Linked DNA regions of Homo sapiens. The protein of the gene in region 1 purifies or fractionates together with the protein of each later gene. This does not show direct contact. Each region holds a gene or a part of one and is shown on either strand. Other genes may lie near its edges.

What was found.
Region 2: the proteins of LTB4R (region 1) and CYBB purify together in Homo sapiens (affinity purification with western blotting, with the first as the bait; one study listed by BioGRID). This does not show direct contact.

What each region holds. Positions count from the first base shown.
Region 1 is NC_000014.9:24,314,362-24,318,710, reverse strand, and holds the end of LTB4R (leukotriene B4 receptor 1), read right to left. Parts: exon of another isoform or gene 3,691-4,349; intron 3,075-3,690; 5' UTR 3,060-3,074; coding exon 2,001-3,059; 3' UTR 675-2,000; downstream 1-674. Other genes in the region: ADCY4 (adenylate cyclase type 4), read left to right, coding at 1-57, 143-295. UniProt on the Homo sapiens protein: Receptor for extracellular ATP > UTP and ADP. The activity of this receptor is mediated by G proteins which activate a phosphatidylinositol-calcium second messenger system.
Region 2 is NC_000023.11:37,778,722-37,783,141, reverse strand, and holds the start of CYBB (NADPH oxidase 2), read right to left. Parts: upstream 3,084-4,420; 5' UTR 3,065-3,083; coding exon 3,020-3,064; intron 1,055-3,019; coding exon 959-1,054; intron 1-958. UniProt on the Homo sapiens protein: Catalytic subunit of the phagocyte NADPH oxidase complex that mediates the transfer of electrons from cytosolic NADPH to O2 to produce the superoxide anion (O2(-)).

The DNA.
Region 1 (4,349 bases):
AACACAGTGAACGTGGCCAGCCGCATGGAGAGTACAGGAGTCCTTGGCAAAATCCAAGTGAGGGAACCACATTGGAGGCATAGGGGGAGGGGGACTAAGAATAGGGCCACCTCCATATTCCCTCGCCCCCCTCCAATTGTAGGTGACTGAGGAGACAGCATGGGCCCTACAGTCCCTGGGCTACACCTGCTACAGCCGGGGTGTCATCAAGGTGAAAGGCAAAGGGCAGCTCTGCACCTACTTCCTGAACACAGACTTGACACGAACTGGACCTCCTTCAGCTACCCTAGGCTGAGATTGCACTCGCCTTCTAAGAACCTCAATAAAGAGACTCTGGGGTGTCTGGAGCCCATTGATGTCTGAAGCTGCTGATATAGCTGGGGATCACCTTCTCATTGCCCTTCAGTGGGAATTCTTCTTCTTCCCAGGCCAATTTTAGTGCGAGTGTGTGTGTGAATGTGTGTGCACATGCCTGCACACATGCATGCATGTGAGACTAAGCATTTTGAAAGGGAGTGATTTTTTTCACAAGCTCAGGAAGAGAACTCCCTCAGCCTCTCTGCCAACTTGATTATAGTATTTTGTACACCTTGGAAGCATAAAGAATTTAGCCACATGACTCAAAACAAAAATTTGCCCTTTCCTGCCCCCTACTCAAAAATACCGGAAGAATCTCCAGGGAAATGTCATTTGAACTTTATTAATTCGACAAACACTAAATAAGTACCTATTATGTGCTCACCATACAGAATGGGCGAGAGGACTGGGAAATACTCCGTTAGGTCCCTCCCAGTTTCAGCTGCTGTTCTCAAATTGGTGCACCATACCTTCCAGTAAGGATCTGTAGACAGCTTGGGGATCTCCTCTTCTTAGGTCCATCCAACATCCCTTTGCTTCCTTCTGCATCCTTCTGCACAGATGCTGGTATATGGGTCTTGAGATATTGATGACTCATTCTCACTGGCTCATACTTTGGGGTCCATGGGAGTATGTCAAACCTTGACATACTAGATTTGTTGCGGATGTTGCATGTGGATATTTGGTTTCCCTCTCTTACTTGCTCTTTTGTTTTTTTATGAGAAAGATCCAAAAAGTACACTGCTGCCACTGTTGTTGCCATCTTCCTAAAACCTTGTCAGAACAGAGTTGGACCAAGGTTCTCTAAAACAACAGTCATCTCTAGGAAATAATGACTCATCCCTCTCACTTTTGGGAATCTTTGTTTCCTGGGGCCCTCAGCCCCACCCTGTGCCAGGGTGTGTTGTGGAGGTTAGCAGATGCTGATATGCAAAATTCTAAGGGATAAGATCTAATGACTTAGTCCTCAAGTCTGGCCTCTTTGTGAAATGGAGGGAAGGAAGGCATCCCCTAGAACATCTCCTATGGAGAGGACAAAGATTATTGGCAGGAAGTTGGAGTCATTCTAACAAGGAGACTTATCACAGGCTTCAAGGAAGATATTTCACAGCAGTGCTGTTTTCTCAGAAGGTCCCGGGTCACAGAACCTGGAGTGATAAGCCCACATGGGTGGTCTTCCTAGACAAGCTGCTTTAGGAGTCTGTAGACTGCGTTTTGCTAAGTATTATCTGCAGACTATGTACTCGGAATCATCTGGGATGGGGGAAGTCTATGTTTCTTTGTGTCCCTTCCAAAATTGTAAATCATGGGGAACTAAAGGACGTGACTCTCAACTACCGAGAGGGGCCCCACCAGGGCGCCCACGAGCACCCCGATACCCACAGCACATGTACCCCACTCACAAGGTTGACCAAATTTCAGACTTCAGTTTTAATGGTTAAAGCTGCCTGTGGGAGCCAGGCTGGAGCACGCTCTCACTCGGCCCTCACTTTGCTCCACCTCTCCCTCTTCTTCCACTCCACTCCCGCCTCCCACGCTCCCACGCCCTCCACGCCCTCCACGCCCCTGCTCCTCCTCCAGGTACTGAACTGGCTCAGAGCTAGCATTCTGCCAGGAGGAAAGTGCGCCTCCTTCCACCAGGCCTAGTTCAGTTCGTTTAACTTGAGAGGGCTGGAGGCAGTGAGGCTCTCGGAAGGGCCGGGCTCCAGAGCGGCGGGGCCGCTCCTAGCGGTCTGGCCCAGGCTGCCCCCGCGGCGCGTGCTGGACGCCTCGGAGCCCGTGCCCTCCAGCAGCTTGGCGACGAAGCCCACGCCCGCCGAGCGCAGCAGGCCGCCGCCGGCGCACGCGTACAGCACGGGGTTCACGCTGCTGCTCAGGAAGGCGAGTGCGATGAGCACGTTGCGGGCCAGGCTCAGCCGCTTCCCCACGAGCCCTAACCCGGCGGCCTGGCCGGCCAGCGCGCGGCCCGCCTCAGCCAGGTTCACCACGTGGTAGGGCAGCCAGAAGGCGGCGAAGGTCAGGATGATGAGCACCACCAGGCGGCCGGTGCGGCGGCTGCGGCGGAAGCGCCGGGCCTGTAGCCGACGCCCTATGTCCGAGTAGCTGGCCACCACAGCCAGGAAGGGCAGCAGGAAGCCCGTGACAGCCTCGAAGATTAGATGGAAGGCCCGGTGCCCTTCGCTGGGGTACCGCGGGAAGCACAGGCTCATGTTCGTTTTCCAGGGCACTACTGTGCGGTACGCGAGGACGGGTGTGGCCAGCAGAAAGGACAACACCCAGATGCCTGCCAGCACCCGCCGGGCCATCGCCTTGGTGCGTAGCTTCTGGGACACAAAGGGGCGGGCCACCGCCAGTGAGCGGTCTAGACTCATGGCCGTGATAAGCAGGACGCTGGCGTACATGCTGACTCCGCAGACATAGTGACACAGGCGGCAACCAGCCAGTCCAAAACTCCAGGTGCCTTGGGCCAGGAAGTGAAGGAAAAAGGGAGCAGTGAGCAATACGGCCAGGTCGGCCAGGGCCAGGTTCAGCACCATCAGGGCAGTGACAGAGCGCTTCTGCATCCTTTTCAGGATACTCCACACCACAAAGCTGTTGCCGGGAAGCCCCACAGCCAGCGCCACTGACAGCAGGATGATAGCCAGCAGAGAGATGAACTCTACACCTAGTGAGGGGGGTGCTGCAGAAGATGTAGTGTTCATGGCCGTCGGGAGGACCTGGAGAGTGAGGGCGGACACACGCATGAGAGTAGAGGACCAAGGGTTTCCTGACGCCATGGACACACCTAGGCTGAGAACTCTAGTCTATCTCCAGGGTCAGCAGCATCAGAGGTCCCCCTGAAATATACTGCCCCCATCGCTGCAGACTGACAACTTAAAGGGATCTGGTTGAGTACAAAGACTAGTTTCCTAACTGGGTCATGCGGCCCCTTCCTGTCCACAGACCCAATTGCAAAATATACAGTGACCACAGCAGCAGCAGCATTTCCAGACCTTTTCAGTCTCCTCCCCTTAGGAGACCCTAAAGCCCAGAACCAAACAGAGTTCCTACCAATGCTGCACCCCTTGAAAGGCCAGTCTTTTTGCCCCCTGCCAGGCCCTCAGCCCCTCAATCCCATTAACTTTCCCAATCACCTGCCTACTGTCCCCAGAGATGCCCAGGGTCAACCAGGAATAACAGGGAGGGGAGGAGTTTAGTGGACAAGTGACAAGGACAAAGCCTCCCAACTTTTTACGCTGGTCAGGCTTTCTTTGGAGATTCCTTTGCACCTTCTTTCATGGCTGCACACTGTCCCACCACCACCACAACCACGGCCGCTCCCAGGAAACTTACTTACAAGCTTTGGCAGGAACTGGTTGGAAGCTGATGCCAATCCCAGGGTCAGGGCAGGGTGGTGTAGCCTATCCCTGGATCTGTCCCACTGCCAAAGGCCTGGCCCCAGGTCTAGGTGCTGTTTGCTAAATCAGCCAGAGAGGAAGTACCACAGAGCAGAGGACAGGGAAGACGCATCTTCCTGAGGGTGGGGCTGAAACCCCTACCCACTCCCTTCACTAGGAGGGGGGATAGTCTGTTTTCCAGGGCAACCCAGAAGGCAGGAGGACTCCTTAGAGGTGGGGCCAGATGAGAAGAGACCAGGAAGGAGCAGTGAGAGAGGAAAGAGGGGTGTGGGGAGTGAGAAGGCTGGGTGTGGCCTCAAGATGCAGGTCTAGACTGGATAATTGAACAAAGTAGTGAATGGTATCATATAGGAGAAGGAGGTATGGTAGCCAGAGAAGGGAAATGGGCTCAGATTGGAGGCTACAATGCTGATATCTTTTTGTTTTGTTTTGCTTTGTTTTAAGATTAATAGGAAGTGTAGGTTGGAGCTGTGACTAGGTCCTGGGTCTGGGTTTGGGTTAGATAACATCATGATTTAAAGAGGGCACATCAGTAAATGCCGAAGGGGGCAGCACTCTGTCCTTGGCTTCAGTTCAAGCTATGATCTAGGTGGT
Region 2 (4,420 bases), on another chromosome or scaffold:
CTCATCTAATTTTTGATGCATTTCAAAGTAAGTTACAGACAACAGTTCACTTTCTCTTTAACACTTAAGGTGCATATCATTAACTAGAGTTAAGTATCAAGACTTTTAAAGATTTTAAATATTTTCTTAGCACTTAAATTGATCTTAACAGTATCTTAAATTGGTATGGTATAATGCTTTGGCATTATAATTATTATATTTGTAATGTCTAAAGAAGTTGCATATTTTGGCGGGAGAAAGCATCAATGTGAATAAGCTAACAACAATTATAATGATCTAGCATAATTATATGCTAAAATTATTTATTTATGATTTATAATACTTATAATAATTAATATTAAGCAATTAATTCATAGTTTCAGCATGATGTAACAGATGTCTTCTGGAGGCAAGAGGCCTGACAGTTCAAGGAAACTCAGAATACTAAAGGACCCAAGGAAACTGAAGGGCCTTCACTCTACTGTCCTAGTCAACAGATGTGGCCCTTGAGCAAGTTCCTCGAGTCTTTATATGTAGAGAGAGATTTATTTTCTGAAGATCATTTCATAACATGTGATTAGGAGCAGAGCTCTTCATGCAAAAAAGTACTAGGAATTAGGTGACTTAGAAAATATGGAAAGTCCCACTTGTCCCACATGTGTCACTCCTGGATGGATTGCTCCAACCTGCCCTTCCATTTCAGAGTGAGTATTAGATTTCTCCTTTAAGCTAAACAATGGCACATGGTTCTTGGTTGGGGAAGGATGCCACTGGGGCCCTCTGCCCCACTTTTGTTGGTCCCAGACTGGAAGGCTTTAAGTGACTGTTGCCCAGGAAGTTGCAATGGAGGGAGTGAGGCTAATGGTACTGTTTGGGTTGGTCAGAATATGTATTTAAAATGCTAACAGGAAGATGAACAAGAATGTCTGATGAGAAATGTGAACCAGCCAATATTGCATGGGATGGAATTTATACTTACCCCAAGAAGTTTTCTTGTGTAAAAGAACTTAGGTGGAATATCATAAACCCGGTAATACCAGACAAAGAGGAAGACGTTCAACCCCAGCCAAACCAGCTGCACAAACAGAAATAATTGCATGAAGTTTCCGCATTTCCACAGTAGATTCCACACAAGACTGGAGTCAGATAAGGGTCAGGACTTCCCCAAGTCCAACTTTGACAAAGGTAGTGACAAAGCTGGATATAACCAGCTTAGAGCCAGCTCTTTCCTCAACAGTGTCACTACACTTGTCTATAATTAAAACCTCTCCACCCTGTGTTGTTCCCCATGATTGTTTTATGATTTGGCCAGTATACCAAATTATCAGTCTTACATTACCCCACTCCCTTTTTTTCCCCTCTCTTTTGCTTAACCTTGGATAGGTAGCTGATAGCAGGCCACTCCACTTAAAATGAGAAAGGAAGGGAACATATTACTATTGCTTTCCCTCCACCAGTATGACACTGCGTTCTGTTCTCACAGGTGCTAATCACCTCCCTCTACCACACAGTAATCCAGCTAGTGAATTCTCATCAGCTAAAATGCCAAGCCTTCCATTTTCCTTGATTAGTTTTACTTAATGCTTCAAGGAGAGAATATTGAGCATAGTGAGGGGCTTGGGATTTACAACAAAAACAGCTTTCTAGATCATGACAGTTCATTTTATCCTAAGCACTGACTGGATCAAGTGGTCACACTACCCAGTTCTCTACCTTCAGCTCCATAGTGATCTTTTCTCAACTATGCTTTGAAGCTATTATATGCTCTAGACACTTGATAATATTCTCTCTTTACAAAGAAAAAAGTGCTAAAGCAACTTCCCAATTTCCTGATCTTGTCATTCTTTCTTTACTCTGACTTTCCAAGCTGTGTTTTCACTTTCAAGTGCATGAGTATATAATTTAGAAGGAGGTCATTTCCTGGGAAAAATTGTGGCGAGAGCTAAAAGTTTAATTTGAACTTACTTTCTATAGAAATTATTTGCCCTTAAAAATGGTGATAAGAAGTTAAGTTTACAGCTTCGAATACTCGGAAGAATTCTCTGTTGCAGTAGAATGTTGGTTTGGCGTAAACATTTTTTATAACAAAATATTTGTTGTTTTTATTTGTGCCACTAATTGCTTTCTATATTTAAAACTCAAAGACTCATTATTTTTCATGATAAATTTTTACAAAAGCTCCATTCATATTCCATTCATAATTGTACTTTTTAACATCTGTGTAATGCTTCTATTGGTTATTTAGAAAGGCTATTTAAAAATCGTATTTCTATCTACCCAATTTGTCCATTATTGCTTTGCTGATAACACCATTTTAAGAGAACAGTTGATTTTCTTTGTTTTAAAAAGTACAGAAATCATTCTGTCCACTTGTAAATTAGCTATATCTTTACTTACATAGTTTCTCCAGACTATATTGATTTATATATATATACAATTATATATAAATATACATACTACATATTTATGAATCTAGATGACTTATTTCAATTCTGTTCTTTTGAATTTTTATAAATCTTATAAATAACTCAAGTTTAGATCTCTGAAAAAAGAAGGTACTTGTTTTTGAAAATAAATTTGAGAAGTTTTATTATATTTAGTGTAATTACTGAAATAAAGGCCTACTTCCCATACATGAGTCAATCTTATATTTTTTATTTAGAAAATGGTATAAAATTTCAATTTGTCATTTTTAAAGTAGTATAAACACATAGACATGTGCGTCTGAGTAAACATTACTAAACAACTCAGAATCAGAGATCATTAGCATGAAATATTTTCTACTCCTTCTGCGAAATGCTGGCTAATTTATTCCTCCTAGGAATTCAGAAGTAAGCTAGAAGTGAGCCCCCAGATATGTTCTTTCCATTAAGGAATTTGGAAGAATGGACTCAGTCTGTTTACAGATAGATATAGGTTCACATGGTAAATCAGTTTCAACACAATTCCTCAAATGAACAAAAAAGCTTTGGTCTATTTTAGTTCCAAGATAACCCCGAGAAGTCAGAGAATTTATAACTTATCTCTTGTTGGTACTTACAATGACAAAAATGGAGAGCCCCTCATTCACAGCCCAGTTCCCCATGGTGGCAGAGGTTGAATGTGTTGTGTTTGCCTTTCTTCTATACTATGCTTCTTCTTCCAATGAGGAAATGAAAACAGCAGCCCTGGGGCAATCGGTTTCCTTTTCTTTTATCAGAAATTGGCTAATAATCATTGGTCAACTGAAAAGCTTGCATCCATAACAAACTTAAATCTTTAAACCTCAACAACTACAAAAAAAGGGTCTATAATGATCCAGTCACAATTAAACATAGTGGAAAATGAAACCAATTTCTACAACTAAGAGATAAATAACAGTGCATTTTAAGGGATGTATTTTACACAGTGAAATAACTTTTTAACTAACCAGCTATTTGATCACAATTTTTAAGCCACTCAACTAGACATGACTTCGTGCTGGGTAAAACACATTAAACAGGTGTGATTTTGACAGGCTGGAACAGCATTCATAGCCTTGCTGAGAAAAGTAGTAACAATTGTAATGGTTGATATTTACAAAATGCTTAATATGTGCCAATTTTATGTGCTATATATGTCTATATATGTGTGTGTGTATGTTCATGTATAGCTATCATATATATATATATATATATATATATATATATATATATAATTTGAAACATACATATATAAATACAGATGCTTTGGCCAATGATGAACCACATGTATGACAGTGGTCCCATAAGATTATAATGGTGTTGGCCAGGCACGGTGGCTCACGCCTGTAATCCCAGCACTTTGAGAGGCTGAGTGGGGTGGATCACTTGAGGTCAGGAGTTTGGGACCAATCTGGCCAACATGGTGAAACCCCGTCTCTACTAAAAATACAAAAATTAGCTGGGCATGGTGGTGGGCACCTGTAGTCCCAGCTACTCAGGAGGCTGAGGCAGGAGAATCACTTGAACCTGGGAGTCAGGTTGCAGTGAGCCGAGATTGTGTCATTGCACCCCAGCCTGGGCGACAGAGCAAGACTCCATCTCTCTCTCTCTCTCTCTCTCTCTCTCTCTCTATATATATATATATATATATACATATATATATAATATATAATATAATATATAATATATATACTTGTGTGTGTGTGCTGAAAAATTCCTACCATCTAGTGACATTGTAGCATAACACATTACTCATGTGTTTGTGGCAATGCTGGTGTAAACAAACCTACTGAGCTGCCAGTTGTAAAAGTATAGCACATACAATTATGTACATTACATAGTACTTGATAGTAAAAATAGATGACTATGTTACTGGTTCATTTATTTACTAGACTATACTTTTAATCATTATTTTAGAGTATACTCCTACTTATAAAAAAGTTAACTGTAAAAGAATCTCAGGCAGGTCCTTCAGAAGGTATTCCAGAAGAATGCATTGC